4 separate regions of the Homo sapiens genome follow, and all the other regions are linked to region 3. Evidence: fine-mapped expression QTL. A gene starts in region 3. Each other region holds a variant in brackets. All regions are shown on one strand. Distances are from middle to middle. Region 1 holds the start of PREB (prolactin regulatory element binding). Region 2 overlaps DPYSL5 (dihydropyrimidinase like 5). Region 3 holds the start of KHK (ketohexokinase). Region 4 overlaps CAD (carbamoyl-phosphate synthetase 2, aspartate transcarbamylase, and dihydroorotase).

The links.
Region 1: its variant is fine-mapped to the expression of KHK in whole blood (TOPMed, PIP above 0.99).
Region 2: its variant is fine-mapped to the expression of KHK in whole blood (TOPMed, PIP above 0.99). The same link has a PIP of 0.9 or more in blood mononuclear cells.
Region 4: its variant is fine-mapped to the expression of KHK in whole blood (TOPMed, PIP 0.95).

Annotation. Positions count from the first base shown.
Region 1 is chr2:27,134,411-27,142,410 of GRCh38, forward strand. It overlaps PREB (prolactin regulatory element binding), which reads right to left and starts at 226. Exons shown (of 9, transcript NM_013388.6): 1 at 1-226. The coding sequence starts at 11. It overlaps PRR30 (proline rich 30), which reads right to left and starts at 5,000. Exons shown (of 3, transcript NM_178553.4): 1 at 4,893-5,000; 2 at 4,560-4,612; 3 at 2,438-4,284. The coding sequence starts at 3,919. The coding sequence ends at 2,681. RefSeq lists a silencer at 1-44 and enhancers at 1-639, 115-164. The variant C/G (reference allele first, on the strand shown) is at 4,651.
Region 2 is chr2:26,944,813-26,952,812 of GRCh38, forward strand. DPYSL5 (dihydropyrimidinase like 5) reads left to right here. Exons shown (of 13, transcript NM_020134.4): 12 at 1-12; 13 at 2,098-5,539. The coding sequence ends at 2,183. It overlaps LOC124905979 (a long non-coding RNA gene), which reads right to left. Exons shown (of 3, transcript XR_007086251.1): 3 at 5,703-5,769. Among named protein-coding and RNA genes, the nearest start is that of MAPRE3, 22 kb to the right of the region's middle. RefSeq lists an enhancer at 4,757-5,257. The variant C/T (reference allele first, on the strand shown) is at 4,354.
Region 3 is chr2:27,083,433-27,091,432 of GRCh38, forward strand. It overlaps KHK (ketohexokinase), which reads left to right and starts at 3,340. Exons shown (of 8, transcript NM_006488.3): 1 at 3,340-3,919. The coding sequence starts at 3,828. It overlaps EMILIN1 (elastin microfibril interfacer 1), which reads left to right. Exons shown (of 8, transcript NM_007046.4): 4 at 1-579; 5 at 983-1,099; 6 at 1,559-1,576; 7 at 1,728-1,865; 8 at 2,246-2,971. The coding sequence ends at 2,583. RefSeq lists enhancers at 2,324-2,543, 3,534-3,593 and silencers at 2,674-2,833, 2,884-3,343.
Region 4 is chr2:27,230,968-27,238,967 of GRCh38, forward strand. It overlaps CAD (carbamoyl-phosphate synthetase 2, aspartate transcarbamylase, and dihydroorotase), which reads left to right. Exons shown (of 44, transcript NM_004341.5): 16 at 501-613; 17 at 1,013-1,257; 18 at 1,481-1,727; 19 at 2,075-2,173; 20 at 2,345-2,569; 21 at 2,659-2,841; 22 at 3,041-3,259; 23 at 3,551-3,718; 24 at 4,278-4,460; 25 at 4,569-4,673; 26 at 5,317-5,556; 27 at 5,782-5,863; 28 at 6,412-6,578; 29 at 6,751-6,915; 2 more. Among named protein-coding and RNA genes, the nearest start is that of CAD, 18 kb to the left of the region's middle. RefSeq lists an enhancer at 515-1,714. The variant T/C (reference allele first, on the strand shown) is at 4,955.

The DNA of each region.
Region 1 (8,000 bases), 51 kb after region 3:
CGCCGGCCCATCCCGCCCGGCGCGCGTTCACTGCCCGCACCGCGGCACCCAGGACATGCCGCGCCGGGCCTTCGACTACTGCCCCGGCGGCTGGTGAACTCGGCCCCGTCGCCGCCGGGAGCACTCCCTACCCCTCTCACACCGGGGAGTTGCCAAAACCCTGACCATCAGCAGGAAGCCGAGCCTCAGCTCGGCTCCGTCCAAGTCGGTCTCGCAGACGCGCACTGCGCATGCGCACCTGTCTCGCGGCTCCCTCCGCGCAGGCGCAGGAGCGCCGACACGCGTCAGCACTAGCCGGCCGCGGGGCCGCGTTTCCCGGGGCGGGGCTTCGGTTCTCCACCCCTGGCGCGGAGGCAGAGTCGCCCAGCACCGACTTCGCCATTTTTGTGCGGGGCGCGGGGCGCGGGCGGAGGAGGTGGAGCCAATGGAGGTTGATGAAGGTCAACCTTTAATAAAGAAATCCGACTCGCGCCTGTAATCCCAGCACTTTGTGAGTCCTAGGCGGGCGGATCAGGAGTTCGAGACCAGCCTGACCAACATGGAGAAACCCCGTCTCTACCAAAAATACAAAGGGCGTGGTGGCGTGCGCCTGTAATCCCAGCTACTCGGGAGCCTGAGGCAGGAGAATCACTTGAACCTGGGAAGTAGAGGTTGCAGTGAGCCGAGATCGCGCCATTGCCATTGCTCTTCAGCCTGGGCAACAAGCAACAAGAGTGAAACTCCGTCTCAAAAAAAAAAAAATCCTCTGCCAGGCACGGTGGTTCATGCCTGTAATCCTCCTGTAATCCCAACACTTTCGGAAAGTCCGAGAGAGGAGGATGGCTTGAGCCCAGGCTTTCGAGACAGCCTGGGCAACATGGGGATCCGTCCCTACGAAATATTTAAAAATTAGCCAAACATCGTGGCACCTGTGGGCCCAGGTGCCCAGGAGGCTCAGGCGGGAGGATCACTTGAGACTGGGAGGTCGAGGCTGCGCTGGACCACCAGTGATGTCACCACTGCACTCCAGCCCCTGGGCAACAGAGCTAGACCCTGTCTCTCACACACATAAAATCCTCAAATAAGGACTGTTCCCATCTGAGGAGTGATATGCCAACTCCTAGGAGCACAGGCCTTTGCATCTTACCTCAGAGAGGAAGTGATTTGCCCGAGGGCACACACCAGAAACCACCGGAGTCTCTTGCTTCTTAACGGAGGCAGCATGAACTTAAAAATAAACCTGACTTCAAATGCTGAATCCATTGCTTCCTCGTATGAGGACACGTCTGTCATCCTTAACGCCTATCGCCCACTTTTGGCAGGGGTGGTGTCTGCCATTCCCTTTCTCAAGGCTTCACACTCCTGGGCTGGTGGCTTGGTGGGTGGCCAGCTGCTTTGCTGGCCTCAGAGGGGGCAGTTTGGCTCCCGGGCAGGTATCTTCTGCGCCTGACACTCCATTCTCCCTCGGGTTTCTGATCTGATGAGGACCTTTGTGCACTCCTGAGAGCGAGCACAAGGGATGTCCTTCCCTGCAAAGAGACGCCCTCTCCTGCATTCTCATTAACCTAAGGTGCACCCAGAGGAATAGCGCAGTGGCTTCATCTTTGGGGATGCCAATATCTGTCCCACAGAGTTGAATTAGATGTGTGAAGGGCCTGGCCAAGCTCTCTGCATATCTCAAGTCCCCAGGCCTTGTGGGTCCCTTGTCCTCCTTGGATACATGGCACCTGCTCTTTCTGGCCTCTCCGTTTCCTTTGACACCACCCTCCAGGGTCTTTTTTATTTTTTGAGACGGAGTCTCGCTCTGTTGCCCAGTCTGGAGTGCAGTGGCCTGATCTCAGCTCACTGCACCCTCCACCTCCCAGGTTGAAGTGATTCTCCTGCCTCAGCCTCCTGAGTAGCTGGAACTACAGGCACCCGCCACCACACCCAGCTAATTTTTGTATTTTTAGTAGAGATGGAGTTTCACCATGTTGGCCAGGCTGGTCTCGTAACTCCTGACCTTAAATGATATGCCCACCTTGGCCTCCCAAAGTGCTGGGATTATAGGCATGAGCAACCACACCATGCCCTCTTTTTTTTTTTTTTTTTTTTGAGATAGGGTCTCTGTCACCCAGGCTGGAGTGCAATGGCATGATATAGCTCATTGCAACCTTGAACTCCTGGACTCAAGTGATCCTCCCACTTTAGCCTCTTGAGTAGCTGGTAGTACAGGCACGCGCCACCATACTCAGCTAATTTTTTTATATTTTTGTTTTTGGAGAGACAGGGTCTTGCTATGTTGCCCAGGCTGGTCTCAAACTCGTGGCTTCAAGTGATCCTCCTACCTCAGCCTTCCAGTGTGTTGGGATTATAGGCATGAACCACCCCCTCCCCGCCACCAAGGGTCTTGTTAGGGACTGGCACCCCTATAGTTACAGCCACCTATTCTGTGGACTCAGCAGGACGCAAACACAAGTTTCACAGGGTCAGACTTTATTAGATACACGGAGGGCTGAATGGGGCCTTGGTGCCCTTGGTCCTCTTCAGCCTGGAGACAGCAGACTCCACAAGGGGCTCCCAGGGTTCAGAGCAGGAGAACACACCTGACCTCCGGCCAGCCAGCCCTTCAGGGTGTCTCGGGGACTCCCCGAGATCTGGGGCCTGGTTGGGAGGGTTGGGTTTGGAGGGGGTGTTCCAGGGGGCCTCCGTGGCTCTGGAACTAGACTGATGACTTTTGGAGAATGAGCTCCAGAGAAACTGGCCTCTTTGGGCCAGGGCAAGGCCTGGGCTTCAGGGAGGTAGTGACCTGTTTTGGTGCCCGAGGTGGAGGCCCGGAGAAACATCGTGGGGAGTTTGGTGATTGAAGGCCTGCAGACCTGAAGCTCCTGGTCTGGGAGGGTGTGCCTGGGACTGGGTCGGCCCGGGCCTGAGCTGCTGGAGGCTGAGATGCTGGCAATTGATGCCCACAGGCCTGAGTAGCCTTGCCCTGAGGCCCTGCTTCCTTCGGCCTTTTCTCGGGCAGCAGATGCAAGGCCCTGGCCTGGCCCTGAGGCAGGCGGAGGCCGAAGCCGATGCCTATCCGGAGTGGCCCAGATTCCTGGCCCTGCACACAGGGCAGTAGTTGAGGGAAAGCAAGCAGCCGGGGTCCAGTCCTGTACCTGGGGAGGGGGCAGGAGGGGCTGCGGGGCCGGAGGCACACCAGGCATATAGGATACTCCACGACTGGGGCCTGGCCGGTTCTGCCTAGCCACAGGTGCTGCAAAAGCAGTAGCCGCAGGTCGTGTGCGATGCGGCGGTGCCCCAGCTGGACCACCAGGGCCTGGGCCAGGGCCCCTGGGTCCCTGAACTGTGCAGGATCCTTCTCGCTTGGCACGCATCTCTCCACCACTCCAGGGGACCCGGACCCAGTGTCCCTGTACTGATGCCAGCGCCATGTCTGCCTGTTAGAGTGGAGCCTATGAGAAGGTGGGCTGGGGCCTGGGGAAGTGAGTGTGGAGCTATGCAGTTCCTCGGGGTGGGAAGGGGACTGGCAAGGTGAGTGGGGAAGGGAGGAGTTCTGAGGCTGGGAGGGAGAAAAGGAAGGGGTCAGAGGGGGAGAGGGGTACAGCCAGTGGTTGGAGGGAGAGGATGCACGTGGACGGGGGAGAGAGAGGTAGTTCTGGTGAAAGAAAGTAGGGGAACTTGGGAGAGAGGGAGAATAGGGATGTGGAGCAAAGTCAGAATTTGAGTCACAAGAGCCGAATTGGAAGCCAGGAGAGGGGGATGCTGGTGGAGGGGAGGAGGGACGACGGGACTGAGTGGAAGAGAACGGTGGTTGAGAGGGAGGGAGGCCCTGATGGGGAGAGAGAGGCTGTAGGTTGTGAGGAGAGGAGTCCACAAGTTGTGAGAAGCCCCAAGTGGGGCGCCCAGGGAGCACTGAGGTCTGTGGCAGCACCTGGTCCTTGTTTTGAGGCAACATCGCCTTGAATCCAGAAGGAACTGGGGCAACAAGACTAGGGATAAGAGACCTGGCAGAGTCAGGACCAGTATCTCTGAGGTCAGCTGTGCCTGAGAAATCAAGGCCACCTTCTGTGCGCAGAGCGTGGCTCCAGCCTGGTGTGGGTGCAGGTGCTGGTGGCAGGCCAAGGGGATACCCAGCCCTCCAGCACCAGGCTCTCAGGGTGTTCAGGCATGAGCATGAATCTAAGCTTGGCTTCTCACTTCTTTGCAGTCAACCATTGATGAGGGATGTGTGGGGATGGAGAATCACAGCTGCATCTTGGGAGTGGAGGGGCAGCAGCGATTATCTGGGTGGGGCAGAGAGGAAGACAAAGCCCATAGGACCTGGAGAGAAAAGAGAGAACCCAAGACATTGGGAGAATTGGTCCATTTCTGGCTCTGCCTCATATCCCCAGTTCCAAGCTGAACTCACCAAGACTTTAAATCCATGTCACCTTTGGGATCAAAAGAACTGGCAAAATGCTCCAGGGAAGGTGAGAAGTGGGGAGGAGAGGAATAAGGAGGAAGGGAGGGTAGGATGGAGTTGGAGGAGGGGTTCGGGGGATAAGGGCTGAGATGGGAACAGGAATTGAGGGTGTTCTGGTGCTGAGCGCTCTTACCAATGAGAACTCCTCTGGGCTGTGTTTCACAGGCACTTCAGCGTTGAGAGGACCTGGGAGAGAGGAGCAGGGTCACCAAATGGTGGATACA[C/G]CTTTCTCTGTCCCCAGCGTCTAACACTAAGTGCACTCTGACCCGGGTTTCTGTCTGAGCCCTGAGTTTTGCCCTCAGTCCTCCTTTAGCCAGGCGGAGGCCTGTGGTACAGATTTTTATTCTCCTAATCCTGATTCGGGGGTTCTGCAAGCATCCCAGTGTCCTGCCACTCTGGTTCCTCTGACCCCTTATTGCCCCTAGTGCTGATGTCCTCTAGCTCACCCTGGCCCAGACAGAGATACCTTATTATACCCAGCAGCAGAAGGAATGGGGCCAGCTGGTAAAAGCCTCTGGGAGACTGGGACTTTGTCTAAGGGGTGGCACCAGGTTCGCCGACCCCAATGGGAGCTGGGGGCCCCATTCCCTGAGTTCAGTTCCCCCCTGGCAGCATGTGCCTATGTCACAAAGGTCAGGTGCTGACATCATAGAATCTCCTCCTCGAAGCTCTGGGACCTTCTTCAAGAGACCATCCAAAGGCTGGCCCTTGATAACGCTGTGAAGCAGGCAGAATTCTTCAGTGCACTCAGTTTCTCCTTCAAGACCCAGCCCCCACCTCTACTCTTGGCCTATACACTTTACAGCTCCAACCACCTCCTTCATCCATTGCTCTCCCCACTAACACAGCCTGTCTGGGCTGAGTTCATGCACCACAACTTTCTCCCCCTTGGGATATACCTATTATATGTTTTAATAACTATTTTCTTAACTGCTTTATTGGGATATAATTCACATACCATACAATCTACCCATTTAAAGTGTACCATTCGATGTCTTCTAGTTTATTCACAGGGTTGTAGAACCATCTCCACAATCTAGTTTTAGAACATTTTTGTCCCCCCAAAAATCCTGTACCCATTAGCAGTTGGTCCCCACTCTTCCCCCAGCCTCTGGAAACCACCAGTCTACTCTGTTTCTATAGGTTTGCATATTCTAGACATTTCATATAAGTGGAATTATACAATATATGGTCTTTTGTATCTGACTTCTTTTACTTCGCATGTTTGCAAGGTTCATTCATGTTGTAGCATGTGTCATCGCTTTATTCCTTTTTATTGCCAGATAATATTCCTTTGTGTGGATATGCCATATTTTGTTTATCCATTCATTAATTGATGGACATTTTGGTTCTTTCTACTTTTTTTTTTTTTGAGATGAATTCTCACTCTGTTGCTCAAGCTGGGGCGCAGTGGCACAATCTTGGCTTACTGCAACCTCCACCTCCCGGGTTCAAGCAGTTCTCCTGCCTCAGCCTCCTGAGTAGCTGGGACTACAGGCGCGGGCCACTATGCCTGGCTAATTTTTGTATTTTTAGTAGAGATAGGGTTTCGCCATGTTGGCCAGGCTGGTCTCGAACTCCCAACCTCAGGTGATCCACCCACCTCGGCCTCCCAAAGTGCTGGGATTACAGGCGTGAGCCACCGTGCCTGGCATGGTTCTTCCTACTTTTTAGCAATTATGAATAGTGCTATGAACATTCTTGTACAAGTTTTATGTGAACATATGGTTTCATTTATCTTTAGATACATAGAAGCAGACTTGCTGGGTTACACGGTGAATCTATATTTAACATTTTGAGTAACTACCAAACTGTCTTCCAAGTTGGCTGTACCAATTTTCAATCCCATCAGCGAGGTATAAGGGTTCCAATGTTTCTTTATCCTTACCAACACATGTTGTTGCCTGTCTTTTTTATTTTAGCAACCCTAGTGGGTGTGAAATGGTATGATATTGTGGTTTTTATTTACATTTTCCTAATGACTAATGATGTTGAGCATCTTTTCATGTGCTAAGGGATATTTGTTTATCTTCTTTGAAGAATTGTATATTCAAATCCTTAGCCTATCTTTTTAAAAGCCAGTCAAATTTAGCAGTGGGGTGTTGTATACCAACTTTAGTGACCTTTTTTTTTGAGGGGCTGATGGAATCTCGCTCTGTCGCCCAGGCTGGAGTGCAGTGGCGCGATCTCGGCTCACTGCAACCTCTGCCTCCTGGGTTCAAGCAATTCTCCTGCCTCAGCCTCCCGAGTAGCTGGGATTACAGGCGTGCACCACCATGCCCAGCTAATTTTTTTGTATTTTTAGTAGAGATGGGGTTTCACCATATTGGCCAGGCTGGTCTCAAACTCCTGACCTTGTGATCCACCCGCCTCAGCCTCCCAAAGTGCTGGGATTACAGGCATGAACCACCACGCCCGGCCGGCTGTGGGTTTTCTATTCTTTTTCTTTTCTTTTTTTTTTTTTTTTGAGACAGGGTCTCACTCTATTGCCCAGGCTGGAGTGCAGTGGCACAATCAAGGCTCACTGCAGTCTTGACCTCCTAGGATCAAGCCGTCCTCCCACCTCAGCCCCACCAGATAGCTGGGACCACAGGCACACGCCACCATGCCTGGCTAATTTTTGTATTTTTTTGTAGAGACAGGGTCTTGCCATGCTGCCCAGGCTGGTCTTGAACTTCTGAGCTCAAGTGATCTGCCTGCCTTGGCCTCCCAAAGTGCTAGAATTACAGGGACAAGCCACCATGCTCGGCTGGCTTTTTCATACATGCTTTTTTTTTTTCTTTTTGGAGACGGAGTGTCACTCTGTCACTCAGGCTGGAGTGCAGTGGCACGATCTCAGCTCACTGCAGCCTCAGCCTCCTGGGTTCAAGCGATTCTCCTGCCTGAGCCTCCCGAGTAGCTGGGAACTGCATCAGGCAAACCTTCTTCCCATTTTATTCCTAAATAAGATAGCTACAACGATTTTGAAAAAGTGGCCAGGCGCAGTGGCTCACAGCTATAATCCCAGCACTTTGGGAGGCTGAGGCAGGTGGATCACTTGAGTCCAGGAGTTTGAGATCAGCCTGGCCAACATGGTAAAACCCCATCTCTAATAAAAAAAAAAATACAAAAATTAGCCGGGCATGGTGTTTTGAGCCTGTAATTCCAGCTACTCGGGAGGCTGAGGCAGGAGAATCACTTGAACCTGGGAGGCGGAGGTTGCAGTGAGCCGAGAACGCGCCACTGCACTCCAAGCTGGGCAACAGAGCAAGACTCCATCTCAAAAAGAAAAAGATTTTGTAAAAAGCTACATACCTCCTTCACAGTTTGCCCACAAGGAAATTCCTTGTTGGCCAAACAGTTCTGTTGAATTTCACCTTGGCAATGTAAATTGATAGCTTATCTTCACAGGTGCAGGCTAAAGGACAGAACTCAAAGTCATCATCTCTCTGCTCACCTGACACTAATGCATATCTGATTTGCTTCCTCTGTCCTACTGTCTATGTAAAAATGCAGATTCACTGAGCCAGACTAAGGGTTAAGTGACTGTTCCTTTAGCCCCCTCTCACATGTAAATTGTATATGCAGTGAAAGG
Region 2 (8,000 bases), 140 kb before region 3:
TCAGCCTCTCTGGTAAGAGTCAGGGGGCCACGGGAGGAGGATGGGGGTCTGGGAGAAGTGGCCCACCTAGGCAGTGGGACTTACGCCTGCTTTTCTTTTGTGTCCTCTCCTCCCTCCCGTTGCCTATTTCCAGGGATGAGTGCTGGTTTGGATATTAGACTCACATAGACATTAGTGGGGACAGGAGGGCTGTCCTGGTCCCTGGGCACAGACGCTCTAATAGGCCATGGCCCACCTGGGGCTCTGCTCGGGGTTTCTAAGTTCAGATATTTTTGTCCCTTGAAACATCTTGAGGGCTGTGCACACAGTGGGTGCTCCAGAGATGCCCTGAGCTCAGAAGAGTCAGCCCTGTCTGTGGTTCACGGGACTGCACCGACCAGCCCTTCGCCCACCCCAGCCCACTCCTCACCAGCCTCTCTACTCCTTCTGCTACCCCCTCTCCTCCTCTGACCTTCCCACACCTTTCCCCGCCTTTGCCTCACCTTCACCTTCTTTTTTTTTTTTTTACCAGGAATTGTATTGTATATATTTTATTAACTTTAAGTAAAATATTTTCTCTCGACTTCTGATGCCCAGTTTTTTCTCTTATCTTTCTGTCCTTTGGGTCCTGGCCCCAGTCCTTCTGTGGAATCTCTGGGTTCCTTGGGGGGTGCGATCCCAGTTCTTAAAGCCACGATCTGCAGTTTCCCGCCCCCCCGTCCCCCCCCGCACCCATCACCATGCGAGCCACGGGCTCATAAATGATGATCCTCAGTGGAGAACAAGCAGAGGCTGTAAGATGCCTCGGGCCTCCAGGTGGCTTAGGTGGGAACTGTCACCACCACTTGCAGGGGGCTAGGACCCTGAGTCTCCCTGAGCACAGTTGAGCTGCCTTCAGGATAAGCCCAGAGAGAGACCAAGCACCCACTCAGTAAGGGCTGTGCTGGGATGGGTACGGCGAGAGGCGCAAGACCCTGGTCCTTCCACCCACAGCCTGGAGTTTACTGGGGGAGACAAGCCCCATACACAAACCATCCTGCTGTGAGAACAGAGGGCTAAACCAGAGGGATGCCAATGGGTCAGCGCCTGCCTGCCCAGGCTCCTGTGTGCCCTGCTTTGGGCCAGGCGCAGCTTGTGGCAGAAGAGATGAGGTCCCTGTTGGAGGTGCTGGTAGCCCATGGGGAGGGGTCCTCTCTCAGGACCAGTCTCATTCCTGAGATGATGGCTCCGCTACTCTGAGGGCCACTGCCACTCCCACCAGTGACGGGCCATGAGTGAAGTCAGAAAGGGACCCTGGCATGGAAGACTTGTTTATGCACACTCAGGTCTTGCCAGTCCCGGAGGCATGGACTCCCACCGCCTTCCTCCTGCAGCCAGACCCACGAGAGGCACCAAGACCCCAGAGCTGCAGGGCCCCTGCTGACCAGCAGCCTCCTCTTCTCCTGCCTGAGAGCCAAGACTGGGCAGAACCCCCGCTCAGACAGCAAACATCAGGCAGCCTGTCCCCTCCTCTCTACCCCAAATCTTGTCTGTTCTAAGCAGGCCAGGCTGAAGAATGTCCCACTGGGCTCTCCGGGGCACTAGACCCTCCCTTTCCCTCCCTTTGTGTTTTGTTTGTTTTTGTTTTTTTTTTTCAATCCTTCTCCTGTATAGACCCTCCCTTTGTAACTAAGTCATGGGATTTCAAGATGCGGGGCCTTTGGGCTGTGGTTCTTTCATTTTCCGAAACAATGGCATACCCTCATTTTTCTCTCTCGCTTACTCACTGAGGCATATGTACAAAGGCCCATGTGCCAACAGGCTGGCCAATGACCTGCATGTACGAGAGACTGTATGCCTAGGCATGGGGCAGTGAAGTTGGCACAGTGGGCAGTTAATAATGTCGGCTCTGAATCAGGAAAACCTGGGTCCAAGTCCAGGCTCTGCCACTTACACACTGCAACATGGGGCAAGTCACTTAACTTCCCTGAGCCTCTGTCTCCTCATCTATAAGATGGGATGGAGTGGCTGTGAGGATTCACTCAGGCCATGCACACAGTGAGCCTCCAGGAGAGGGTGTCTGTGGTTTGTTAGCAGGCACAAGAGCCCGTCTCACCCTCTGTGCTTCCTTCCCTGCAGGCTCTCAGATCGATGACCATGTTCCAAAGCGAGCTTCAGCTCGGATCCTCGCTCCTCCCGGAGGCAGGTCGAGTGGCATTTGGTAAAGGCATTGCCAAGCCCCCCGAGTGAGGACGCACCGCCGCCACCAGCCCGCAACTCTCCAGCCGAAGCTGCAGGGGCAGGAGAGGCTGGGCTGGGTGGCACACCACCCGAGGGGGGCCCCGGGACCCACGGAGCCCTCCCTATGTCTGCAAAGTGATTCACTGTGCTTCGAGCCAACTCTAACAGGCACTTTGAGATGTGTTCCTCCTGCTGTAGTCCTTTCTGCCTTGGCCTCGGCGGGCTTTTCTGGGGCCCAGGAAGCCCACACTATGCACAGAGCCCAATGCATAGAGCCCTGGCCAGCCCTTCCTCTCACTCCTGCCTCCGCTGGCTTTGGGAAAGCCCAGACTTTAGTGCCCTGCCCCCTGGCTGACTGGCCAGTTGCCCAGAGCACTTTAGCAGATGTGGTTTCAAAGTAAAGGCCTCCTCCCCCACCCCTTAGGCCCCGTGGTGACATTTCCCAAGTCAGACAGATGTCAGCTTCCCAGCCATGCCCAGGACGTCCTATCTCCCCCAACCCACCTCTGGCCCTGTGTAGGGGCAGGGATGGGGGTGGCTGGGACTCCTGGTGCCCCTCGCCAGCTTCTCCTGCGCCCCGCCCACACCCTCGGGGGGTCACAGGCCCAGAAGGGTAGCTGGGCGGGGCTCGAGGCTGGTGCCAGGCGCGTGTAAATGGTTTTGTTTTGCACGTTTGGTTTGCGCAGTAGTTTGGTTTGACTTGTTTGTGCATCCTGTGAAAAATAACGGTGCTTGTGTCACTAGCATAGAATAGCGACAGGAATAGATGTGGTCCTTAGGAGACGCTGCACTTGACACCAACCAGACAGCACAGGGCAGGGGTGGTGGAGGGGGCTGGGCTCACAGGCCTCTCTTTTCCCCGCCTGCAGTCTTCTGGGCTGCGGGAGGCCCTGGCCCTTTCCCCTTCCCCTCCCCTCCTTGTCTAGTTTCCCACATTCCAAAAGGGGGCCTGGGATGCTAGCCCCAGAGATGCCAGCCCTTCAGGAAGCAGGTGTCCTTTCCCCTCTCTGCCCCTGATCACTCCCAGCACTCCCCTTGCCTTCCCCTGTCTTCACCTGCCACCACACACACACACACACACACACACACACACACACACGCACGGCTTCCTATAACTTCTTCCTGCTGGACAGAGACTCAGCGCTCCTCCTGTGTGACTGGCAAGAGGCCTCATGCCTGCTGAGAGAGGAGGAGTGGGAGAGGGGCTTGCCAGACACCAGAGAGGGAGACCCCAGGCCCACAGGACCTGGCTGTCGAACCCGCATTGCTGCTCAGGTGCCGTGATCTCCCGTGGTCGGCACCAGGCCCTTGCCAGCTCATGGCCTCATCTTCTCCCCTGTCCATCCAGGTGGGCCCTCCCTGCTTCTAAAGCCCCACAGAAGTTCCCATGGAAACACTAGAGGCCGGGTGTCTCCTTCCACCTCCAGTGATCTGGGAAGTGACCCAGCCGCCTGCCCTTGTTAAGCCTGGTCTGCCCCGTGGGAAGTGACTTCATGTTGCACATGTGATTTCAGCCCCCGAGGCTTGCGCGAGGCTTCTGGACCCTCGGTTAAAGGTCAGCCCCTGGCCGGGTGCGGTGGCTCACGCCTGTAATCCCAGCACTTTGGGAGGCCAAGGCGGGTGGATCATGGAGTCAGGAGATCGAGACCATCCTGGCTAACACGGTGAAACCCCGTCTCTACTAAAAATACAAAAATTACCCAGGCGTGGTGGCGGGCGCCTGTAGTCCCAGCTACTGAGGAGGCTGAGGCAGGAGAATAGCGTGAACCCGGGAGGCGGAGCTTGCAGTGAGCCAAGATCACGCCACTGCACTTCAGCCTGGACGACAGAGTGAGACTCCATCTCAAAAAACAGACAAACAAAAAAGTCAGCCCCTGCACATCTCTGTAGTGCTTTTCATGTATTCAAACCACTTCCGTATATGACCTCTCACTTAGTCCTCATGACAATGGAGCACTTATTATTCTTCCCATTTTACAGATGAGGAAACTAAGACCCAGAAAGTTCAGGTCCTCTGACCCCAGAAGTGTCTGTGATGACCCTCCCAACCTTGGCTATCTACCCCACCTGTGGAGAGGAGGTCTGGGGTGACATCTATTGTAGATCCCACCTGAGAGTTTAACCAATGAGAAGACTTACTTTCCTGGTAGGCAG[C/T]CTGCTTTGTTTTGCACAGGAAGATAGATTTTTTTTCTCATCTTTCTTATAAACAACCTCATGCACATTCTGTGTTTGAGCCAAGACTAGTCACCCATTGGGGGCTAACCGTGCAGTGTGAGCTGCGTCCACACCCTCACTTCTCCCTTCACTCCCCCTTTCCTCACTCAGGGGCTGAGAGGACAGAGGTGGTCAGCCGGGGAGCAGAGGTGGCGAAGGGGCTCATGGCAAGTGGCAGCCATTGGAACAGGGGTGAGGACCCAGGCCTGGGAAAGCCACCAGGGATGGGGGAAACCATGACGCCGCCTCCTGGTGCAGTGCACACCATCTCTATCCCTGTCAGCCCTCACTGGGTCATGGGCCTTGGGCAGATGTCAAAGAGCCCAGCAGCAGCGGTGGTGGCCAGCTGGGCAGAGCATCCTTGCTTGGGCTAGGAAAGCTTTACCTTCTCTGAGTGCCTCCGCCTGAGAGATGTGTGACCCGTGGCACCAGGGAACCACGTCTTGGAGTGGTCCACTGTAGGCCATGCGCTTCATCCACCCCCAGTCCCTACATAGGCCCTACCCTTGCCCGGGAGCTTCTAGATAGAAATCAGAAAGAGATTCAAGGAGCCAAATGAGCGGTCAGCCCCCACCATGCACTCCTTGCCCCGTGCAGAGCTCCAGCCAGCTTCGTCACCAGCCCCACTGGCTCCTGGTTGGAACGAAAGGGTCTCTGGTTGCACTGAATGCAGCTCTCAAACTGGTCTTGTACTTGCTGAATAAATACTGTTGTTCTTGCCTTAGCTGCTCTCTAGGTTTGTGGGGTTAAGTTGCCAGAAAATTGTGCTACTGTGTGTGCGTGTGCGTGCGTGTGTGTAGTGCTAGGAGTCCACAGTAGGTCTCTGTCAAGCCGATGTCGTGATGAGGGCTTTTCTGATACTGACCCAGAAGCCACAGAACCACAAGGAAACCCAAACCCCCTCCAGCTGCTGAGGCGCAGGCACAGCCTGGGGTCGGATGGAGCCTCCAGCACCCCAGCACCCAGGTGACTTCCCCACTCCCCTGTAAATGTCATGGTGCTAAGACTGTGTCAACCCCAAGACGACACATGGTCCTGTGCTTTGGCCACCGTTTGAGGCAAAAACTAAACAGCCCGACACGTTGTGTTCTGGTGCAGGTTTGTATTAAACTGTAGCTACTTCTCACTTGGACTCTGTTGTGTTTCTTCAAAGAGGAGGGAGTTTGGCAGAGATCTCTTCTACGGTGGCTGGGCAAGGCTTCAGTTGCTAAGAAAAGGCAGCTTTGATCTGTCTCTCCTATTGGGTGGCAGCTCACTGGGAGGCTTGTGCAGAGACTGGATTTTTTTTTTTTTTTAATTCTGAGAGACAGGAGCCCCAGTGGTGCCAGATTTCCAGGGACAAGGTTGCCAAATTATCTGAAATAATTAGGAGGAAGAATTAGATGCAAAAGGGAAAAAAACTAGACTCACTCCATCTACCTATAGTCGCGTATTCTCTTGGCTACCATTTTGGAAGCCCATAGCCACCTCTCCACTCGGCAGAACGTTTGGCTGATGGAACGATGGCCTCATAAAAAAAAAAAATCACAAGACAAAGCGCTGTCCCAAGGCCAATATGCCTTTGAAGGACCTTCCAGCTGCTCTCCGGCTGTCTAGAACCCCGCTTTTGGAGTTGGCCCTCTGTAGTCTCAACCCCATCCATTGCATTGAGACCCCTCTACCTTCCCTCTAGAGCTCAGTCAGATGTTAGGAGGATTATCTGATTAAACTCTTTCACACTAAAGGGTAAAACTGTGGCTTCTAAGGCCGGGTGCTGTGGCTCATGCCTGTGATCCCAGCACTTTGGGAGGCCGAAGCGGGTGGATCACCTAAGGTCAGGAGTTTCAGACCAGCCTGACCAACATGGAGAAACCCCGTCTCTACTAAAAAAAATACAAAATTAGCCAGGTGTGGTGGTGCATGCCTGTAATCCCAGGTACTCAGGAGGCTGAGGCAGGAGAATCGCTTGAACCCGGGAGGCGGAGGTTGCAGTGAGCCAAGATCGCGCCATTACACTCCAGCCTGGGCAACAAGAGTGAAGCTCTGTCTCAAAAAAAATAAAAATAAAAATAAACTGTGGCTTCTAGTACTATGTGGTCACTGTACTTATTTCTTAACATTAAAATTCGAAGGTTGAGATGGATTTGCCAGCTTGAGATGGATGCCGAGTCCCTGCAATGTATTGGGCCAAAGTGTCTGTTACCCTGTTTTCCCACAACAGGAGAGCACACCAGAATTGGGTTAACTGCCAAAAATCCATTGGGTTTGGATGAAAAAAATAATATGACCACACATTTGGCACAAGGCGTCTATCAGGCAGTCTACAGGGAAAAAATAAAAGATACCCAGGAAGACATAGGGTGCCTTTTTATGTATGTAGTTGTAGAAAAATCAAAGACCACAGACTCAGACTTTAAAATAAGGCTTGATCATTTATGAGAATCCGGATTTGGAGAAACCACACCAGTCAGCAGCTAGGCAGCCACCAGCCTCTATTTTCTAACTCAGAATTACAGACTGACCTCTGTACACCGGTAGAGACTAACGCTAAGAATTGCATTGTGGTCGGCCAGTCACAGTGGCTCACGCCTGTAATCCTAGCACTTTGGGAGGCCAAGGCGGGAGGATTGCCTGAGCTCAGGAGTTCAAGACCAGCCTGCGCAACACAGTGAAACCCAGTCTCTATTAAAATACAAAAAATTAGCCGAGCGTGGCGGTGGGATCACACCACTGCACTCCAGCCTGGGCGACAAAGCGAGACTGTCTCAAAAAAAAAAAAAAAATTGCTTTTTAGTCAGTGGAAGACACAGGGTCTCATGACACCCAGGTGTGAAGAAGAAACCTCATGATATGTAGGGGCTGGTAGACCTTAGAGTCCTAAGTTAATAACAGGCTATTTGACAGTGTTGTAACAACAGACATTTGAAAGGGCTCTTAGAGCTTTCCCAGTAGAACAGTAAAGGATCTGGCATTTTGCTGACACTGGGTACTGTCTTATGATGGAAAGTGAGTTCTTTACTTTCCCTTCTGGATTTACAACCATACATTTAGAACTAGAGGGACCAGATGTCTTGGTTTGCTCAGGGCAATCCTGGTTTAAGTCTATTGCCCCAGAATAATTATTAACAGTGTCCACTTTCACTGTCAAACATGTCCTGGTTTGTATAATAAATTACATGGTCACTTTCTGTATACCTATACATTCATTGGGCTATTACTGTGCCTGTCCAGGAGTTAAAAATTTTTCCATTGCTGAAAGACAAGACATGGCATTGTAAGAGATGCGGAAGATGGGTCCTTCCACAGTGGGTGGTGACTTAGGGGTTTGCATGACAAGCCCAGCGTCTTCACACAGCTCTTGGAGGCTTGATGAGTCTCAGTAGCCGGGGATGCCACAGGGTGGGGAAGGCCTGCAAATGCTTTTCTAAGCTTTTTCAGTTTGCCTCGTAGACCTCATTGTTCCATTAGAAGCTGTAACCCTACCAAATTCTATCATTTGCTTTTAAGGTGACTTTGATTCCATTTATGAACTTGAACACCTTACAACATTTTCAACTACATTTAAAATTTGATTTCCCTTTTAAATACCTTTCCTAAGTACCAAATAA
Region 3 (8,000 bases):
CAAGCCGTGGGCCCCTGGACGGCTTCAGCGTGTTTGGGGGCAGCTCAGGCTCAGCCCTGCAGGCCCTGCAAGGAGAGCTCTCTGAGGTTATTCTCAGCTTCAGCTCCCTCAATGACTCACTGAATGAGCTCCAGACCACTGTGGAGGGCCAGGGCGCTGATCTGGCTGACCTGGGGGCAACCAAGGACCGTATCATTTCTGAGATTAACAGGCTGCAGCAGGAGGCCACAGAGCATGCTACAGAGAGTGAAGAGCGCTTCCGAGGCCTAGAGGAGGGACAAGCACAGGCCGGCCAGTGCCCCAGCTTAGAGGGGCGATTGGGCCGTCTTGAGGGTGTCTGTGAACGGTTGGACACTGTGGCTGGGGGACTGCAGGGCCTGCGCGAGGGCCTTTCCAGACACGTGGCTGGGCTCTGGGCTGGGCTCCGGGAAACCAACACCACCAGCCAGATGCAGGCAGCCCTGCTGGAGAAGCTGGTCGGGGGACAGGCGGGCCTGGGCAGGCGGCTGGGTGCCCTTAACAGCTCCCTGCAGCTCCTGGAGGACCGTCTGCACCAGCTCAGCCTGAAGGACCTCACTGGTGAGGGGACAAAAGGCATGAGGGGACCCCTTTCAAGCCCCTTATTTTTCTTCTCCCTCCCCCAGCCCAGCTTCCAACTCATCTGCTTTCTCCTTGCTTTTCCCAACATGAATTGCAGCCCCAGCCAGTATTCCAGGTGTTATAGTTTGCCTGCAAGAGATGATGCAAGGTCCTAGCTCCCGCCCTCCCTCTGGCTGCTCACTAGGCCTGTGGGTGGAGAGAGGATGTTGCTCTGCCAGCCAGGGATCCAGCATATGCAGCAAGGGACCCCATGGCCCCCTCAGCCTGCAAAGCTCCACCTGTTCCATCCATCTTCTCCCTGTTCATGAAGCCACCACCCACCTTCCTTACCCATTGGAAACTCCTTTTATGGCCCTCCTTCAACTCAATTTTGTCACTGTAGGGCCTGCAGGAGAGGCTGGGCCCCCAGGGCCTCCTGGGCTGCAGGGACCCCCAGGCCCTGCTGGACCTCCAGGATCACCAGGCAAGGACGGGCAAGAGGGCCCCATCGGGCCACCAGGTATGTGCACTGAGACCCTTGCTGCAGTCAGGGTTGCCACTGCCCCCTCCAACCCTGACCCCCGCTGGCAGCCCCAGGCTTGACATTCCACTCTGAACTTGACAAGGGGAATTGGGTACTACCTGACCGATAAGGGAAAATCAGAGGAAAGTGAGGAGGAACTGTGATAGTCACTGTGTTTGGTTAATGGGTATTAGGAGGCTAATGGATAATGTTGGCCCCACTGCAGTACTGGAGACTAAAGCTGAGTCTATTATAGCTGTCTGGGGTGTGAAAGGCTGGGATGGCCCAGCAGTTGAACAGAATGGACCCTACCTATTCCTGTTTTTCTTGATACCCCAATTCCTGCTTTGAAGTCCACGTAGCACCGAGCACAACAGGAGAGCCTCAGCAGATGTTTGCTGAGTGACTTAGTGAGAGCTGCTTTATTTCTCACTGCTCCCTTTCCTCTTCTCACAGGTCCTCAAGGTGAACAGGGTGAGTGCCTTTCATTTGATTCTGGAGGGAGAAGTGACTAGGGGTTGGAGGATAGAGGTCCTCGGGCAGCCCTGGGCTGGGGATCCAGCAGGGGAAGGGGGCTGGCACTCTGCCCTGAGCATCCCCTTTAACATCCACCCTTCCCACTCAGGAGTGGAGGGGGCACCAGCAGCCCCTGTGCCCCAAGTGGCATTTTCAGCTGCTCTGAGTTTGCCCCGGTCTGAACCAGGCACGGTCCCCTTCGACAGAGTCCTGCTCAATGATGGAGGCTATTATGATCCAGAGACAGGTAGTCCTGGGAGGGGCTGGGTTGAACGGTTGGAGAAATGGGTGAGGTGTGCAGTGATATCTTCCCATTCTTGCCTTTTCCGACAGTGTGAATCTTCATTCTCTGATTTGGGGAGACCCCGGCTCTTTCTTCATTTATTCATTCTCAGGCAGTGGGGAGAAGAAGTAGTCATTCATTCATTCAGCAGATCTTTACTGGGGCCTGCTCCTGCCCAGGCACTGTTTTAAGTGCTGGGAATGCATAGTGAACAAAGCCCCCAGTTCCCTGCCGCTCACATTCCAGTGAGGTGAAAAGACCCAGAGGGTCCCTCCTCAGTCCAGGAGTTCTGGTGCGCTCCCCGGAGCTTCCCTGGCCCCCCTGACTGCTATCCTTGTCCCCAGGCGTGTTCACAGCGCCACTGGCTGGACGCTACTTGCTGAGCGCGGTGCTGACTGGGCACCGGCACGAGAAAGTGGAGGCCGTGCTGTCCCGCTCCAACCAGGGCGTGGCCCGCGTAGACTCCGGTGGCTACGAGCCTGAGGGCCTGGAGAATAAGCCGGTGGCCGAGAGCCAGCCCAGCCCGGGCACCCTGGGCGTCTTCAGCCTCATCCTGCCGCTGCAGGCCGGGGACACGGTCTGCGTCGACCTGGTCATGGGGCAGCTGGCGCACTCGGAGGAGCCGCTCACCATCTTCAGCGGGGCCCTGCTCTATGGGGACCCAGAGCTTGAACACGCGTAGACTGGGGTCCCGCCCGACGTGTCTACGTCGGCTGAAGAGACAGCGGGGGCGGCGGGCTCCTGGGGTCTCGCCTGAGACGGGGCACCTAGCCCTGGGCGAGCGCCGCACCCGGGCCCGCAGCGGCACCGCGCCCAGAGCGGCCTCTCCCCACGCCCGGGGCGCGCCGGCTCAGGGAGGCTCGGGGCCGCCCATGCAGACTTTTGGCCTGGCGCGATCCCCCAAGAACCCCTCCAGGGCCGGCCTGCGGAGGAGCCGATCCTCGCACCCTCCGCTCCCTCCACTGGCCCTCCAGGTCGATTCCCTGGGCTCCAGGCTCCCCCGCGCGGGCGCCGCCCACCGCCATACTAAACGATCGAGGAATAAAGACACTTGGTTTTTCTAAAAAAAACTAAACGAACCGTTCTGCTACGGTACGGGGTCGGGGGCTGCCGGGCGTGCACAGGGCACGGGGCGGGAGAGACGACGGCCTCCGGAGAGGACCCCGGGTTCCGCACTGCGTTCGCCGCCTCCGCCCGGCTCGGGGCGGCTCGGGGTTGGCTCAGGCAGCAAGCGGCGCCCGCCCGGCTCCTGCGACGTCTCCCCCGTGTCACGCCCGTTTCGCCGGCGTCCGCCAGGGGGCGCTCTGCGTTCCCGCCACGTGAGGCTGCGGCCCACCCGGCGGGTCCTGCTCCTCCGCGGCGGAGGCGTGGCCTCGGCTGGGACTAACCGGGGCGGGGCGGGGCGGGGCGGGGCGGGGCCGCCGCGACCGCGGGCTTCAGGCAGGGCTGCAGATGCGAGGCCCAGCTGTACCTCGCGTGTCCCGGGTCGGGAGTCGGAGACGCAGGTGCAGGAGAGTGCGGGGCAAGTAGCGCATTTTCTCTTTGCATTCTCGAGATCGCTTAGCCGCGCTTTAAAAAGGTTTGCATCAGCTGTGAGTCCATCTGACAAGCGAGGAAACTAAGGCTGAGAAGTGGGAGGCGTTGCCATCTGCAGGCCCAGGCAACCTGCTACGGGAAGACCGGGGACCAAGACCTCTGGGTTGGCTTTCCTAGACCCGCTCGGGTCTTCGGGTGTCGCGAGGAAGGGCCCTGCTCCTTTCGTTCCCTGCACCCCTGGCCGCTGCAGGTGGCTCCCTGGAGGAGGAGCTCCCACGCGGAGGAGGAGCCAGGGCAGCTGGGAGCGGGGACACCATCCTCCTGGATAAGAGGCAGAGGCCGGGAGGAACCCCGTCAGCCGGGCGGGCAGGAAGCTCTGGGAGTAGCCTCATGGAAGAGAAGCAGATCCTGTGCGTGGGGCTAGTGGTGCTGGACGTCATCAGCCTGGTGGACAAGTACCCTAAGGAGGACTCGGAGATAAGGTAGGGGCGCCCAGGTCCCCTAGGGGACCCCAGGGGCTGCTGCAGTCCAGCATTTGTGCCAGCGACCGAGGCTGCAGAGACCCCGCAGTGAGGCCCTGAGAACCCGGCTTCAAGGCCGGACCCGCGCCCTCTACCCGGGAATCCTGGGGGGGCTCCCAGCATGACAGAAGAGAGGAAGGAATTGAGGCCTTTAATAAGAAGACCCAGGATTTAATAGCATCGTGTTAGCCAATTTCCATTTCAACTCAGGCATCAGGTGTCAGGTGTCAGGCATCAGGATCCCCATTTTACTGATAAGTATAGATTCAGAGACCAAGGGGCTTATCCAGGGGCACACAGCTACCTGCTTCTGCTGTTTCTTTTTAAACCCCAAGCCTATGCACTTGCCTCTCATCAACATTTACTTCTAACTTATTTATCCACATATCTCGCACCTATTTCTGAGAAAGATTTGAGGTAGCTTACAGTAAAAAGTATGTACAGTTAAACTGTTGGAGAACATTTAAGACCATGGTATTTGAGCTTCAACTATAGCTCAGGGCTTGCTGGCACTGGAGGCAAACATGAGATGCCATGGGTTATGTATGGATAGAGCTGGTTCATGAGCCCTGGCAAGCTTTTTCCTGGTGCTAAATTCCAAGAGGAGTTTACCAGAAGTCCTTTTCACAGAGGTCAATGAACACCGTTTAGTAGTGGGAAATATCTTTCTCAGTTGTCTGCTAGAAACTGAAGAGTCAGTTGTTGGTTCTTTTTTTTTTTTTTTTTTTTTTTTTTTGAGACAGGGTCTCATTCTGTCGTCCAGGCTGGAGTGCAGTGGTGCAACCATGCTCACTGCAGCCTTGACCTCCAGACTCAAGTGATCCTCCCACCTCAGCCTCCTGAGTAGCTGGGACCACACATGCACGTCACCATCCCAGCTGTATTTTAAATTTTGTATAAGGGACGGGTTCTCACTATACTGATCAGAGTGGTCTTGAGCTCCTGGGCTCAAGCAGTCCTCCTGCTTTGGCCTCTCAAAGTACTGGGATTACAGGCATGAGCCACTGCACCCAGCCGATTTGTTGGTTCTTTTTCTTTTTGAGACAGAGTCTCGCTCTGTTGCCCAGGCTGGAATGCAGTGGCATGATCTTGGCTCACTGCAACCTCCGCCTCCTGGATTCAAGCGATTCTCCTGCCTCAACCTCCTGGGTAGCTGGGATTATAGGCATACGCCACCATGCCCCACTAATTTTTTTTTTCTTTTGTAGAGACAGGGCTTTTCTTTGTAAAGACATGTTGGCCATGCTGGTCTCAAACTTCTAATCTCAAGTGATCTGCCCGTCTCAGTCCCCCAAAGTGCTGGGATTACAGGCATGAGCCACCACACCCGGCTTATTGGTTCTTGTATTTCCTCTTGATAAGGGCCCCACCATTACACTGTAATGCTGTGAAGGCATTTCTGTGGGGCGGGACACTAGCTTTCTCTTGGTGCAGTCAGTGAGTGCTTAGAACACTGAGAATTGCTCCTGGGCTATATCAGTTGTCGCAGCTAAGAACTGGATAAGAGGCAGTTCAAGACTGAACTCCACAAAGACACGACAGTGCTGATGGCTGCCAGGCTAACTGAGGTGAGAGACCCCGACACTCCTCAGGCTTTGGGGCCACAAAGCACCATCACATATATTATTTTATACTCTCCTCCCAGCAGCCCATGGGAACTGTGTAAAGATCAGTGAAATCCTTTATACAGATAAGGAAGCTGAAGATTTGGAGATGTTTTTTAAGGCCACGGAGTTAAATGGTGGCACAGTGGCAGCTGCAGCTCGAGTCTCCTAGTGTGGAGTCCAGGGTCCCTGCCCTCTGTCATCTCCTGTATACCCTGTCCCTTTGCTGTTGACCATCTCTTGGAGTTGACCCTTTGCTTTGGTTTGCCAGAGGTTAGGGCCCCTTGCCAGGGGTGCAGGGACTGGGGAAGGGGCACGGGCATGCCACTGTGTAGACCTAACCCACTGTGCAAGGTCGAGGCAGCCACAGGACATGGCACTCAGTGAGGAGTTGGGTTCATCTCAGGGCAACAGTGCAAATTCCAGGGCCACAGGTTCTCCAAGGACCGTGGAGAGCCTGGGAAAAGACTCAGCGCCTCTTTCTGTCAGAGCTGAAGTCCCATTTCCTCTCAGCTTAATTCTGTCGGGAAGGTAGGAGAAGGAGGTCCTGCTAGCACCCACACTGATGGGGCAGGTTCTGAAGGTGGGCACTGAGCGAGGCACTTCTCTAAAGGGCCCCTTCCCATGTCCATCATGCTTCCTGCACTCCAGGCCATGCCTTCCCCGCAGCCCCATGGCCCTGGTTCCCTGCAGCCTGGCTCCTGAACTGTTGTGCCTCCCAGAGGAGCACATCCGAGTGGGGACCCAGTCCTTCCTGGGTGTCTCAGCCCCACCTGTCCTAGGGTCTCTGTGCTTGACAGGCAGTTGGGGACTCTTGGGAGCCGCCACCTGGAGCTCAGCCAGACCCCTGGGACGTGTCCTTTTTTTTATTTTTTGAGTTGGAGTTTTGCTCTTGTTGCCCAGGCTGGAGTGCAATGGTGCGATCTTGGCTCACTGCAACCTCCGCCTCCAGAGTTCAAGCAATTCTCCTGCCTCAGCATCCCGAGTAGCTGGGATTACAGGCATGTGCCACCACACCCAACTAATTTTGTACTTTCAGTAGAGATGGGGTTTCTCCATGTTGGTCAGGATGGTCTCGAACTCCCGACGTCAGGCGATCCGCCTGCCTCAGCCTCCCAAAGTGCTGGGATTACAGGCGTGAGCCACCGCGCCCAGCCTTTAGCTGAGCATTTCTGCACAGGAAATATCAGTGTGACTTTGAAGGGTTTCCCCAGAGTAAAATTCTATATCCTTTCTTAGAAACCTCAATGCTTGGGCCTAACAACTTTTAGTTTTAAAATACGGAGTAATTAGCAATGGCTTTGGGGTCAGGAAATTGGGTTCCCACATCAGCTTTGTCCTTAACTATTGATCAAGTCAGATCCCTCGAGATTCCTCCTTTTTTTTCATATCTTTTCGTAAAAATTTCTGTAAAGCTGTAAAGCTCAGCTTGAAAATCTTTTTTTTCTTTTTTCTTTCTTTTTTTTTTTTTTTTTTTGGAGACAAAGTCTTACTCTGTCACCCAGGCTGGAGTGCAGTGGCATGATCTTGGCTCACTGCAACCTCTGCCTCCCGGGTTCAAAAGATTCTCCTGCCTCAGCCTCCCGAGTAGCAGGGATTACAGGCACCTGCCACCACACCCGGCTCATTTTTGTATTTTTAGTAGAGACAGGGTTTCAACATCTTGGCCAGGCTGGTCTTGAACTCCTGACCTCGTGATCCACCCGCCTCAGCCTCCCAAAGTGCTGAGATTATGGGCGTGAGCCACTGCGCCCGGCCAGCTTGAAAATCTTTGACCAGCTGGGTGCAGTGGCTCATACCTATAATCCCAGCACTTTGGGAGGCCAAGGCAGGAGGATCGCTTGAGCCGAGGAGTTCGGGACCAGCCTGGGCAACATAAGAAGATGCCATCTCTACGAAAAAATTTTTTAAATTAGCGGGGCATGGTGATGCACACCTATAATCCCAGCTACTTGGGAGACTAAGGTGGGAGGATCAGTTGAGCTGGGGAAGTTGAGGCTGCAGTGAACCATGATCATGCCATTGCACTCCAGCCTGGGTGACAGAGTGACTCTGTCTCAAAAAAACAAAAAAATTACTATCCTTTGTCATTGTTGTTATTGTTGTTTTTGAGACAGGATCTCACTCTGCCACCCAGGCTGGAGTGCAGTATCATGGCTCACCCCAGCCTAAACCTCCCGGGCTCATACGCTCCCCCAACTTCAGCCTCCTGAGTAGCTGGGACCACGGGTATGCACCACCATACCCAGCTAATTTTTAATTTTTTTTTTTTTTTTAGAGACAAGAGCTCCCTTTGGTTGCCCAGGCTGGTCTCGAACTTCTGGGCTCAAGTGATCCTCCTGCTTTGGCCTCCCAAAGTGCTGGGATTATAGGCATAAGCCACTGTGCCTGTCCTACTATCATTTTTTTTCTAATGACATCGTGCTCCCCTTTTCCCA
Region 4 (8,000 bases), 150 kb after region 3:
GAAAAGAGCTATAAGTTAAGATTTCTTTTTGTTTGTTTGTTTGTTTTGTTTTGTTTGAGACGGAGTCTCGCTTTGTTCCCCGGGCTGGAGTGCAATGGTGTGATCGCTGCTCACTGCAAGCTCCACCTCCCGGGTTCACGCCATTTTCCTGCCTCAGCCTCTGGAGTAGCTGGGGCTACAGGCGCCCGCCACCACTCCCGGCTAATTTTTTTGTATTTTTAGTAGAGACGGGGTTTCACCATGTTAGCCAGGATGGTCTCGATCTCCTGACCTCGTGATCCTTCCGCCTCAGCCTCCCAAAGTGCTGGGATTACAGGCGTGAGCCACTGCGCCCGGCCATTAAGATTTCTTAGTTGTGAAACACCATGAATCCCACCATCATGTGACTTGCCTTGAGAATCTCCCAGAGTCTTGACTATAAACCATAAGCATTATGGGCAGTGCCTTCTTCCCACCCCTTCCACCTCCACACCTTCATTCCTTCCATTCTGTTCTTCCAGGTGAAGTCATGGGCATTGGGCGTTCATTTGAGGAGGCCTTCCAGAAGGCCCTGCGCATGGTGGATGAGAACTGTGTGGGCTTTGATCACACAGTGAAACCAGTCAGCGATATGGTAAGTAGCTCCCCTCCCCTGGCAATACCCCTAAAATAGACCCTGCTTCTCATCGCCCCCAGACCATGAGCTTGTTACCAGTAACACTAGCAGCAGTCATCATTGGACATTTGCTTTGTTTCCACTTTGCTGAGAATTTTGAGATGTCTCATTAGCACGCAAGGGTGTATTACTAGACTTGTTTTTACAGATGAGGAAACTGAGACATAGGTTATAGAAATTACTCAAAGCCACATAGCCAATGAGAGGTAGACCCAGGATTGGTATCCAGGTTTTTGCAGTTACACAGCCTGTGCTCTGGTGTACAGTTTCCCCTTCCTGAGACAAGAGCAGCTACTTACGCTCAGGCTTTTAGATGGGCTGGCAGTAGCTTCCGTCTGTCTACCCCCTTTCTATCAGGAGTTGGAGACTCCAACAGATAAGCGGATTTTTGTGGTGGCAGCTGCTTTGTGGGCTGGTTATTCAGTGGACCGCCTGTATGAGCTCACACGCATCGACCGCTGGTTCCTGCACCGAATGAAGCGTATCATCGCACATGCCCAGCTGCTAGAACAACACCGTGGACAGCCTTTGCCGCCAGACCTGCTGCAACAGGCCAAGTGTCTTGGCTTCTCAGACAAACAGATTGCCCTTGCAGTTCTGAGGTCAGAGGTGGCAATGAGAGCTTCCGGCTGGGAAATGTGGGGCAGAACCTTTGTATCAGTGAGGGACCCTTGGGAGGGAGGAAGGAGAGTGTGGGAGAGCTTTAGAGGCTTCTGACCTTGGTTCCAAGGATATTTCCTCTCATCTGTGCCCTGGGGTCTCAACCCTCTATCAGTCTGTACCCTACTCTCTGGGCCTGTGTTTCAGACCCTTTTTCTATTTTAGCACAGAGCTGGCTGTTCGCAAGCTGCGTCAGGAACTGGGGATCTGTCCAGCAGTGAAACAGATTGACACAGTTGCAGCTGAGTGGCCAGCCCAGACAAATTACCTATACCTAACGTATTGGGGCACCACCCATGACCTCACCTTTCGAACACCTCATGTCCTAGTCCTTGGCTCTGGCGTCTACCGTATTGGCTCTAGCGTTGAATTTGACTGGTGTGCTGTAGGCTGCATCCAGCAGCTCCGAAAGGTCAGAGAGTTCATTTTCTTTCCACTTTCCTTGCTATTCTGTTCATCTCTAGCAATTGCTTGGCACTAATCCTGGCATTTCCTATTAATTGCCGTCCCTTACTTTGGTCATAGAGCTTTGGGGTGGGGGTCCTTTTAGGCCATCTCTCATGCCCCACACGGTATATGAATCTCTTCCCCAACACTTTGTACCTCCTTCCCTCCCAAGGCAGGGGTCCTGTACAGCTCTTTCAGAGGAAGCTGTGCTGGCAGTCTCTGAAGTAGGGGCTTTGGCTTAGTTTCTCCACGATTTTCTCCACGATTTTCCTCCCACCTGACTGCTAAGTACCCTTCCCCTCCCTCTTGCAGATGGGATATAAGACCATCATGGTGAACTATAACCCAGAGACAGTCAGCACCGACTATGACATGTGTGATCGACTCTACTTTGATGAGATCTCTTTTGAGGTGAGGGAGATGGAGGCTTCCTGGTAGCTTGAGTGGCCAGGGTCGAGTAGAACAGCTGGCTGACCTAAGATTCTTTGAAACTTGGTGGCGGCTGAGGGAAGCAGTGAGCAGGAAGGCTCAGATTCCTGCCCTCTTTTGCTGCCACCACTTGTTTCTCCCCCTGCAACGTAGGTGGTGATGGACATCTATGAGCTCGAGAACCCTGAAGGTGTGATCCTATCCATGGGTGGACAGCTGCCCAACAACATGGCCATGGCGTTGCATCGGCAGCAGTGCCGGGTGCTGGGCACCTCCCCTGAAGCCATTGACTCGGCTGAGAACCGTTTCAAGTTTTCCCGGCTCCTTGACACCATTGGTATCAGCCAGCCTCAGTGGAGGGAGCTCAGTGACCTCGAGGTGGGCTGGGACCTGGTGGGTTACCCGGAGGCTGGATGATGCTTGGGGGAAAGTGTGAACAACTCAGCTAAGCTCCCTGCCTCCTGTAGTCTGCTCGCCAATTCTGCCAGACCGTGGGGTACCCCTGTGTGGTGCGCCCCTCCTATGTGCTGAGCGGTGCTGCTATGAATGTGGCCTACACGGATGGAGACCTGGAGCGCTTCCTGAGCAGCGCAGCAGCCGTCTCCAAAGAGCATCCCGTGGTCATCTCCAAGTTCATCCAGGAGGCTAAGGTGGGAGGCTGCAGACAGTGAAGTCTCTGAGGGCATGCTGCCAGCCCTGGAGGAGACTTCCTTCTCTGGTCCAGCAGAATCATAGGCACCAGGGCTGGGAACAGTGGGCTATGTGGGGCTCGTTAAAGGAAGAGACAATCCTAGAGTAAGTGAGAGAAGAAAGTGGCCCTATGTCCCACTGTCTGTGTCCCCCCGCTAGGAGATTGACGTGGATGCCGTGGCCTCTGATGGTGTGGTGGCAGCCATCGCCATCTCTGAGCATGTGGAGAATGCAGGTGTGCATTCAGGTGATGCGACGCTGGTGACCCCCCCACAAGATATCACTGCCAAAACCCTGGAGCGGATCAAAGCCATTGTGCATGCTGTGGGCCAGGAGCTACAGGTCACAGGACCCTTCAATCTGCAGCTCATTGCCAAGGTAATAAGGCTAAAGGAAAGAACTAAAGGGCCACAGCTCTTGCATGTTCTGTGCTGGCCACAGTGCCATGAAGCCCTGCACTGTCTCCTGCCTTCATCCAAGTAGGCAGGGAAGCTGGAGGGAAAGGGCTGTAGCTAGAGCTCATGGTGTTGGGGCTTATGACAGTCAGTGACCCTGAACCCTGCTCAGTCTGATCCCCCAGAGCTGAGGACGGAGAGGAAGAGTCTAGGCCTATAGATAGTGTCAGCAAGGCCAACCTGCAGAAGGCCTGACCAGTCTTCTCTGCCCCAGGATGACCAGCTGAAAGTTATTGAATGCAACGTACGTGTCTCTCGCTCCTTCCCCTTCGTTTCCAAGACACTGGGTGTGGACCTAGTAGCCTTGGCCACGCGGGTCATCATGGGGGAAGAAGTGGAACCTGTGGGGCTAATGACTGGTTCTGGAGTCGTGGGAGTAAAGGTAAGGAATATCGAAACCCTTGGGGTTAGCAGAAAAATAGCGGGAGAGAGTTCACTCACCACACAGAGTTGTCAGTATGTAAACCAGGCACTGACTGCAAGGCATTGCCGGATCGTGGGGGTAATGAGGTGGTCATTGTCCCTTAAGAGCTTACTTTATGGTAATGGGAGGGAAGAGAAGTTGGATCCCCAAAAAAGCTTTGGTATAGAACAGTCCGTGGTAAAACTACATATTCGACCTGTAAACAGAATGCTGCAGGAGTTCAAGAGACAGGAGGTGCTGCTTCCAAAAGGGGTGATCTGGGAAGGCTTGAGCGAAGGGGTGCTATTTGAATTGAGTTTTGAAGGATGGTTAAGGTTTTTTATTTGCAAGGGCACATCCTAAGCAGAAGCTGAGGGATGACCCCAAGTACGTTTGGAAAGCAGGAGGGCACACAGAGAGGGCAGGCTGACCCTGCCATTCAGATGGGATCAAGCACAGGGTACTGTGTCCGTCTCTGCTGGTGAGGGAGGAGGTCCTCTCACACCTTGGCCCTCTCTCTTCCCTCCCGCCCCTTTAGGTGCCTCAGTTCTCCTTCTCCCGCTTGGCGGGTGCTGACGTGGTGTTGGGTGTGGAAATGACCAGTACTGGGGAGGTGGCCGGCTTTGGGGAGAGCCGCTGTGAGGCATACCTCAAGGCCATGCTAAGCACTGGCTTTAAGATCCCCAAGAAGAATATCCTGCTGACCATTGGCAGCTATAAGGTATCAGAATCCAGGAGGGCTTCCCGAGGGCCGTGGCTCCCTGGGCCAGGGCTGACCTTGAAATGGAAGACAGGAAGAAAACAATTTCATCCTTCTGTTTGGTTTCAGAACAAAAGCGAGCTGCTCCCAACTGTGCGGCTACTGGAGAGCCTGGGCTACAGCCTCTATGCCAGTCTCGGCACAGCTGACTTCTACACTGAGCATGGCGTCAAGGTGCAGGAACTCTGGCAACCTACCCCACTGCTGCCCTTCCCCAAGGGGGTGAAAATACTGCACCAAAGAATTATCTGGGCTGGGCACGGTGGCATATACCTGTAGTCCCAGATACTCAGGAGGCTAAGGCAGGAGAATCTCTTGAGCCCAGGAGGTAGAGGCTGCAGTGAGCTGCGAGTGTGCAGTGAGTGCACCACTGCACTCCAGCTTGGGAAACAGTGAGATGCTGTCTCAAAAAAAAAAAAAACAAAGAATTATCTCCTATTCCCCTGCTTTTATTA[T/C]TACCATTATACTAGTAAGCTATATTCCATGCAGAAAGCAGAATACACAGGAAGCAAAGAGAAAAGTCTCTTAAAATCTCTGTACCACTGTTCTGATATTTTTCCTTCCAGGATTTTCTCTGTGTACATGTGTGTGAGCTCATACTGCACCTAGTCCTTGGTAACCCATCTTACTTAGTGTAGATATCTTTCCTGCCAAGAAATACACTTTGCCAGTATCAAATAGAGGCAGCCCTCAGTGCCCACCCTATGGGTCCTCAGTCTCCTCATCATGGGCTCCTGGGCCAGCTCCTCTCCCTTAAGGCTAGCCTTCCTGACCGCTGCCAGACAGCTTGGCCCTGACCTTGACTCCGGGTTGGCAGGTAACAGCTGTGGACTGGCACTTTGAGGAGGCTGTGGATGGTGAGTGCCCACCACAGCGGAGCATCCTGGAGCAGCTAGCTGAGAAAAACTTTGAGCTGGTGATTAACCTGTCAATGCGTGGAGCTGGGGGCCGGCGTCTCTCTTCCTTTGTCACCAAGGGCTACCGCACCCGACGCTTGGCCGCTGACTTCTCCGTGCCCCTAATCATCGATATCAAGTGCACCAAACTCTTTGTGGAGGTAACTGAGACCCATGTGCTGGGAGGGAGACTGCCAGTGTTGATGGGAAGAAGAAAGAGGGAGGAGTGAGTATGGAACAGCCATGCTAGTAATAAAGCTTTGTGGCTACAGAGGGAGAGATGGTGGGTATAGAGTGTGCAGAGCCTGGTTTATGGGAAAACCACATCTCTCCCTACAACTCCCAGGATCACCCTTCCCTTAAAGCTGACTGCTTTCCACTTGCAGGCCCTAGGCCAGATCGGGCCAGCCCCTCCTTTGAAGGTGCATGTTGACTGTATGACCTCCCAAAAGCTTGTGCGACTGCCGGGTAAGTCTTTGGGGAGAACTTGGCTTCTGAACACTGGCAGCCCCTGGCATAGAGACCTGCAGTGTGGTGAAGGATGGCTGGGGGGCCCACTCTTTGTCCTGGACTGCACAGACTGTGAAGACCCCAGAATGTTTCTCACTCTTTCATTCCTTAATCCACAGTGTCCACAGTGGCCTTGTCTGAGGAATTTTTTTTTTTTTTTTTTTTTTGAGACAGAGTCTTACTCCATCGCCCAGGTTGGAGTGCAGTGGTGTGTGATATCGGCTCACTGCAACCTCCGCCTCCCAGGTTCAAGCGATTTTCCTGCCTCAGCCTCCCAAGTAGCTGGGATTACAGGTGTGTGCTACCACACCAGGCTAATTTTTGTGTTTTTAGTAGAGACGGGGTTTCACCATGTTGGTCAGGTTGGTCTCGAACTCCTGATCTCAGGTGATCTGCCCACCTCGGCCTCCCAAAGTGCTAGGATTACAGGCGTGAGCCACCATGTCCAGCTCACCCTTCCTATTTCTGAATCTTCCTGTAATCTTGCTGCTTCCATTTTCTCCCAGGATTGATTGATGTCCATGTGCACCTGCGGGAACCAGGTGGGACACATAAGGAGGACTTTGCTTCAGGCACAGCCGCTGCCCTGGCTGGGGGTATCACCATGGTGTGTGCCATGCCTAATACCCGGCCCCCCATCATTGACGCCCCTGCTCTGGCCCTGGCCCAGAAGGTGAGCCACTGCACTCTTCCTGGTATTGGAGACCCATATGCCCCTACCAGCCACCCTTGCTTCCCTGAGCCCTTTTCCTTCTGCCCCGCCCTATGGGCCCAGGCCACTGGTGCCAGGCTAGCCTGTGTGGGCATGGGTGCCAGTGAGCCTTACCTCTGTGTATCCTCTCCAGCTGGCAGAGGCTGGCGCCCGGTGCGACTTTGCGCTATTCCTTGGGGCCTCGTCTGAAAATGCAGGAACCTTGGGCACCGTGGCCGGGTCTGCAGCCGGGCTGAAGCTTTACCTCAATGAGACCTTCTCTGAGCTGCGGCTGGACAGCGTGGTCCAGTGGATGGAGGTAGGGAGTGTGCATGTGGCAGGAGGCCACCACCCAGTGTCTCCTGGCTTGTGGGCCCCTGCCTAAGTGGGCTGGTAGCAGTGAGGATTCAGGGGAGCTCCTGGGGACTCTGGGCTCTGATGAGCACAGTCAGAGATTCTGCACACTCCTTCATCAGTTCTTTCTGCTCCCAGCATTTCGAGACATGGCCCTCCCACCTCCCCATTGTGGCTCACGCAGAGCAGCAAACCGTGGCTGCTGTCCTCATGGTGGCTCAGCTCACTCAGCGCTCAGTGCACATATGTCACGTGGCACGGAAGGAGGAGGTAAGAGTACACCTGAGATCCTGCTGTCCCTGTTGCTTTCCCAGTAACACCAAAGGTCAGGGTAGTCCTTAGGGGCAGGAGACAGCAGGAGGAGAGTCTGGAGACAGCAGGAGGAGGGTCTCGAGCCAGCACCCTTGCAGGTCTACATCATCATTTTTTGAGCAGGGATGTTGGCCATTGGGACTTTGTGTAGGGCAAGGCATATGGGTGGTGCCTCTTCTGGATCTTCCCATTGTTCCCCAGATCCTGCTAATTAAAGCTGCAAAGGCACGGGGCTTGCCAGTGACCTGCGAGGTGGCTCCCCACCACCTGTTCCTAAGCCATGATGACCTGGAGCGCCTGGGGCCTGGGAAGGGGGAGGTCCGGCCTGAGCTTGGCTCCCGCCAGGATGTGGAAGCCCTGTGGGAGAACATGGCTGTCATCGACTGCTTTGCCTCAGACCATGGTGAGAGAATCCAGCATGTACCTCCTCTGCCCAGTGGGGCTTGTGGGACAGCCCTAGCAAGAAAATGGGAAGCAGGCCAGGCCTCAGGACTCTACTAGGACAGGGTCTTGATCCGTATGGGACCCTAGCCTCTAGGGTACCTGGTCTGTGATAGGTGCCTGATAAATACTTGTTGAAAGAATGAATGAGCCAGTGAGTAGAACTGCAAGTGAAAGAATACATGGGTAAAAGTGTGGGCTCCAGAAGATGGCAGCAGTCCTGTTGCCCTTGTTTCTAGTTCCCAGAAAAAATGAGCATTGGGAGTGGTAGTGAGCATAAGGAGGTTGTTGGAAGTG